Linked DNA regions of Homo sapiens: region 2 is linked to region 1. The links come from fine-mapping of genetic effects on gene expression. A gene starts in region 1. The other region holds a variant in brackets. All regions are shown on one strand. Distances are from middle to middle. Region 1 holds the start of KANSL1-AS1 (KANSL1 antisense RNA 1). Region 2 overlaps NSF (N-ethylmaleimide sensitive factor, vesicle fusing ATPase).

The links.
Region 2: its variant is fine-mapped to the expression of KANSL1-AS1 in whole blood (INTERVAL, PIP 0.98).

What each region holds. Positions count from the first base shown.
Region 1 is chr17:46,191,965-46,194,940 of GRCh38, reverse strand. KANSL1-AS1 (KANSL1 antisense RNA 1) reads right to left here and starts at 1,368. Exons shown (of 2, transcript NR_034172.1): 1 at 1,203-1,368. KANSL1 (KAT8 regulatory NSL complex subunit 1) reads left to right here and starts at 1,512. Exons shown (of 15, transcript NM_015443.4): 1 at 1,512-2,118.
Region 2 is chr17:46,753,529-46,756,364 of GRCh38, reverse strand. NSF (N-ethylmaleimide sensitive factor, vesicle fusing ATPase) reads right to left here. Exons shown (of 21, transcript NM_006178.4): 20 at 996-1,051; 21 at 1-563. The coding sequence ends at 542. It also overlaps a transcript of LRRC37A2 not described here. Among named protein-coding and RNA genes, the nearest start is that of WNT3, 64 kb to the left of the region's middle. The variant A/G (reference allele first, on the strand shown) is at 1,424.

The DNA of each region.
Region 1 (2,976 bases):
ACTATGCTTGAGAGTGTGATTTTAGGAGTACAAATGGAAATTCGCAGAAACCTAGGTGCAGATGTTGCAGGGGCAGGTGAGTTAGTGTAACTTTGTGGGAAGACTAAAACCGTTCTGTAACGACTGTGAGGGTGTTTTTTGATAAGCAGAAGTGACGTATAATGCCGGATATTGGTTCTGGTAAGCCACAAAAAAGTGTGAAGCATTTTGCGTCTTCCTTTTTGGTAGTAGAGCATACATACCCTTCTTATCTGCCGAATTTGATGATTTAATGATTTGAACGATTTTTTCTTCAGTCATTTAAGCCAGTTTTGATGAATCCTAGATTAGTCTTTTAAATCTCAAGATACTCCACTCATCTTTTGGCAACTTTAAAGGGTGGTAGAATTACACTTTGTGTGACACTTTGTATTACATTATGTTTATGAATTCTTTAAGTCTAGGAAAGGTTCCATTATTTTAAAGGTCCTATTTTGGGGACAATATAAAGTTCTGTACTGATAAACTGGTCATGAGAAATGATAAGGTGCCACCACTTTAAACCAACTCTGGTAACGAGGTGGGAAGTTGGCTTTTTGTTGTGAGACTTGTGTTTCTTTATGGAGTTCTTTGTTAAACTTTTAGCATGGCAGTGAACTTCCTTTTGGTGGCGGCAGGAAGCATAAATACTCATTGTGTAATGCCATTTGCCTGTTTTGGCGGATCTGCCAAGCCATGACACCCAAAACAAGACGCGTGTTTCTTCACGAAAACTACAGTTCCCAGCGGGCCCGGCGCCGGCGGGGCCATCACTTCCCCTCTGGCTCCCGGCTGTCCCTTCCCGGGCTGGCCCGGCGCGGGCCCTGGCTGGGGCCTGCGCAGTGACTACGTGCACCCTCCCCACCCCGCCCAACTCTGGTGGCTGCGGAGCGCGGTGCTGGGGCTAGTGCCCAGCCGTGCTGCAGTATACGGAGGCTGGCTGCTAGGGACAAAGGGCGGGCGGCGGAAGCCGCTTCACTGGTCAGGGAGCTTTCTGCAGGGTTAGCCTTGGAATAGTGTGGTGCCGACGGCCTTACCCTCTTTACTACACAGTGCAAACAGTTCCTCGCTCACGTCCTCTCGCTCCGCGGCGCCGGCCCGCCCTGCCCCTCAACTGGCGAGCCGCACCGCCGGCCCCAGCACGGAGGGCATGTGACGGCGTCAGTGCCTCAGGTTAGACTCACCTCGGCCGCAGCGAGGGCTGGCTTCCCCCTGCCGCAGTGCTGCGTGCCGTCGCCGCACGTCCGGGGCAGCTGGGGCCGGGCGCCGCGGCCTCCGCAGATGGAGGTACAAAAACATCGGCCACGGCGAGGAGCCATGACTGAGGCGGCGGCGGCCGCGCCTCCTGGCGGCCCGCGGGGGCGGCGCGGCGGGCGCCCCCTGGCGGCGCGCCGGGGTGGAGCGGCCCTTCGCCGCCGCAGCCGCAGCCGGCGGAGGCGCTGCTGTCCCTCCTCCCCGTGTCCCCGGCGCTCGCCCGCTTGCTCGCTCGCTCCATTCTCCCTCCGCTTCAGATTAAAGGGGGGGAGGGAAAAGGAGCTCGGCCGCCATTTTCCCAGTGCCGCCGCCACCGCCGCCACCGCTCGCCGAGCCGGCGGGAGAACCGAGCACCGTAGCGAAGCCGACTCGTCTCGCCGCGGCGGCGCGGGGGGCGGCTGAAGCGCGCTCCCCGGCTGGAAAGAGGCGGCCGGGGGTGGCGGCCTGGGTGCGGGTTCGGGCTGCAGACGGCGGTGCTTGTTTGTGCGGGGCGGGGGGGCGGTTTCACTCTCTGCCCCCGCCCGCCCGCCCTCCCGGCCGGGCTGCGGTCTCCAGCCGTGCTCGGGCCCCGTCGGTGCGGAGCAAGGCCGGGAAAGGGCCCGAAAGAGAAGAAAAAGCAGCCGCTCCCCGCCGCCGCCTTCCCCTCCCCCTCTGCCTCGCCCCCCCGCCCGGAAAGTCAGGGCGGCTCCGGGCGTCGGGGGGAGGAGAGCGGCGGGCCCGGGCCGGAGCCGCCGTCGCGCGCCCCCGCCCGCCGCTGGCCCTCGGCGCCCAGGCCGGGGGGCTGTTTGCAAACTGCGCCCATTTTGTGGGGCTGAATCCGCCCGGGCTACGCTCCTCCATCACGTGGTAGGTGCTGCTGCTGCTCCTCTCCTCCTCCTCCTGCTGCCCTTTCTCCTTCTCCTCGCTCTCCCTGTGGCTCCCATTTCTCTCTCTCTTTGTTAGTTGTAACTAGAAAGGCAGGGCAGGGTAGAAAAATCCCCCGGAACTTTAAATGGCCTCTCCGGGCTTCCCTGCTGCGGGTCCGGGCTGGGAGTCGCCCCAAGGGCGGGGGTGTGCGGGGGCCCTTCCCCAGGAGCTGCCGCCTCGTTCGCCAGCTTTTCCTTTGGCGTTCTATTTAAAAAGGCGGCCTGAAGAACATGATTTATTCCCGTAAAAGAACCCCCCAAACAAACTCTGGCTCTCGCCTTGAACTTCTCTTGACTGCAAAAGGCCTTTCTCTGCTCGAAACACACATCTTGGCGCGTTGCACGGTTTGTATCACAACTCTGATTGTTTCATTTATTATTTTTGTTGCCTGTAAATTCAGGTCACTTACGTTTTCAGATGTAGTCTCCCTCAGGCGGACTTTTTTTTTTTTTAAACTAAAGAGGAAGAGGGATTTATTTGCTTTTAAGTGAGTTGGAATCTTAACTGCCTTTTTGGGGGCCTGTTTTCCGGCTGACGGTCTTTTGATTCTTAGCAAATAGTTTGTTTTCCATACGATAAACAGCGCTACTCCCGTGTCTTACTTAAAAATCCTCGTTTTCCAATGTTGGAATCCCAATGTGGATTTATAGAGAAACGTGCTACTTAACTATTGCTTACTGATTGCTTTAGGGGAGAAGGGGTGACATGATGGCGCCACTTTAAATTGCTCTCTTTCCTTTTCCTCGGTCCCCCCCACCCCCCTTTATCCTGGAGGTCACTGGAGCATTTTCTGTGACT
Region 2 (2,836 bases), 560 kb before region 1:
TGTTTCTTCAGGCAAAGAGAATACCAGTCTTGTGGGAGACCTTTAACCAAATACCCAGTGACTTTTAGTGTTAGCTCAGGACAGCTGTCAGAGGATCTCTGGCCCACACCTCGATTTACTAAGCCAGATTTGCATGTAGAAAGTCTGCCTTCTAATCGGCCAACTGTTGTCATGCAACATTCATGACACTGACTGAGAGTTTTCAAGGGTGATGGTGCTAGTAGAGAGGTTGAAACGTGTAGTGTCCACAAGTACTGGATGGTTCCCACCCAGAGGGACTGAGCAAGAAGGAATCACTTTAGCCTGCATGGGAAGGTAAGCGCAGCATTCTAAACCAAATTGACACCTTCCACGAGACACTAAGCTATCTCAGTATGCATAAGGAAGGGAGTTTTATTGCACTAATCATGCAGAGCGAGCACATGTTGAAGGTAGAGAACGTTCCACTTAGTCCAGTATCTTGAGTAAGACAGTGAAGATCCTAGGCCATCTTCACCTTGGTCACTTCCCTTGGTCACTGTGTGTTTCAAATAGTTCATTTTCAATCAAAATCAAGGGGGCTACTGCAAAAGAAATACCAAAACACAAAAAAACAGATGAGGGTCCGTAAAAAACTATTCATCAAAAAAAAAAAAAAAAAAATCACTAAAAGCTTCTTAATGGTTATCCTACATTTCCCACTATGCATTTGCTATTAGATGAGCACTTCACAAAAGAAAATGGTCACAGCTCCATGCATGTAAAAGCAGGTTCCAATAAATATGTACCATTAAGTTTTTCCTGCATTGTGACAAGGAAGTTTTGCGAAGCAGGACAGGGAGAGCAAACCAACAGTACAACCAACTTCCTTGCTTGGTCTCTCGGACCTACAACACAGCGAAGAATTCAAATAAATGGAAACAAACTTATCTAGGAAAGCAACTCTTAGAATAGGCACAGGGATTTAACAGGGTGGTAAGTTTGGTTGATGGTCATTAAATGTTGTATGTACTTACGCTCCTTCTTCTCTTAAGAGGGCCAAGAATTTTCTCACACGGTATTCAGGATCCATCTAAATACATCAGAAGAAATGAAGATGGGTTAATGGTACCTTCTAACAACTCTGCACTTGCTTCATGAGAAGGCAGTGTTCGGTTTCACACTTCATCAATGCTCTGCTAGGTCACTGAATGTGTTACCTGCTCCTTGACCAGCATTCTCACACAAAACAAAGCAGATCACATCATTTGGAGGAAGTGAATGGGGTTTTCCAGAACTATGTACACTGGGTTCCAAAAGACCCAAGCCCGCTGGCCATCATAGGCACTTGGGCCAGGCGTGCCCTGTGCTGATGCCTGTGAGGCATCGCTGTGAGACTGGACAGGGCCATTCATCAGAGTTCAAATGACAACCAATTCACCTGTTGAAGGTGTAAAAGGCTACT[A/G]AAGTCACAGCAAAGTAGAAGATACCAAGTTGAGGTTAATTCAACAACTAAAAAATAGCTTATTAACTCTACATAACCAACCATGTAGCTTTTCTTAGCCTCAGTATCCGTCATATAGTTTCTTCTTTGTAGTAACAAAGTTGTGCTAAAACTAAAAAAATGAAGAGTACTGCTGATTCCTGAAATCATCTCCAGATGAATCTGGGTCTCCTGTGACTGCGAATGTGTCATGAGTCTAAGAAAAGATGGCGCAACTTTGTTTCAGGTGCTTCGTTCAGGTCGTTATTATTAGCTATCTCGACTGGTTTTCATTTTCTATTCATATTTATACTAACTCGTTAAATGTACTTTATTCTCGTAGGCCCACAGGAGATATGAAGTTATCTAGAAAACAATCGTTAAAAACATCTTTAGTTCCTGAAGATGAATTTTTATTGTAAGAAACACACCTAACTTTTAAAATATGTTTCAGAGCAGGAGTCTGTTTCCCAAGAGGGAACTCCCTGCCCTCCAGGAATAACTTTCAAATGCTCAGTGCAGCTGTGGGGAGATGTGCAATTGGACTCCCACTCCAACCACGGATTTTTTTTTCTTTTCTTTCTTTTTTTTTTAAGATTTCTTCTATCCCAGAAAAACACTGAACAGAAGTTTCAAATGTATCAAAGGTAAGAGGTCAGACTACAAAGGACTAAGAAAAAGTGTGAATAGCTAACAAAAGAAACATTTTTCCTTTTTGGGAATAGAATTACATATGAATCAATTGTCAAGTTCTTAAAAAAAAAAAAAAAAAAAGAACTGGCTGGAGCGCAGTTGTAGTTGGTACTTGCAGTTCTTTGCCCATTAAATATATTTAATATGTGTGAGCAACAACTTACTGACTTGCCTGTAGCTATGGAATTAAAAGTCAGGAGAAAGGGAGGAAAAAAGTAATCTAGATAAATGACTTTATTCCCTCAGGTGACATCCAGTCAGAGCAGATCCTCAGCTCTGTGCAAGTTTTAACAGAATAGCATGTAGTGAACAGAGAGGTACCACGACTTATATTCTGCAAAACTACATGCCTCTTCACTTAGGTTCAGCCTCTCTAAGGCAGATCTAAAGAGAATTCACTCAGCTGCACGAAATCCATTTGACATGAAGGGGTTCAAACTCAGAGGCCTATGAAATGTCAGTCGCTGAAGATCAGGCCTGAGTGCCCCACTCTCACTCTCTATCCCACATGCATAAGAAGCATTAACTTGATCACTGACCTGCAGGCATCAAAGGAAGGGAAAGGGATGAGGGTTGGGGAAAAAATCCACATAGTTTCTTCTATGCAATTATTGAAAAAAAATTATACTGAAACTTAAAAAAAAAGAAGCTGACAATCTGACAGATTTATCTTTTTTTCAAGGAAAGAGCCAATACACCTGT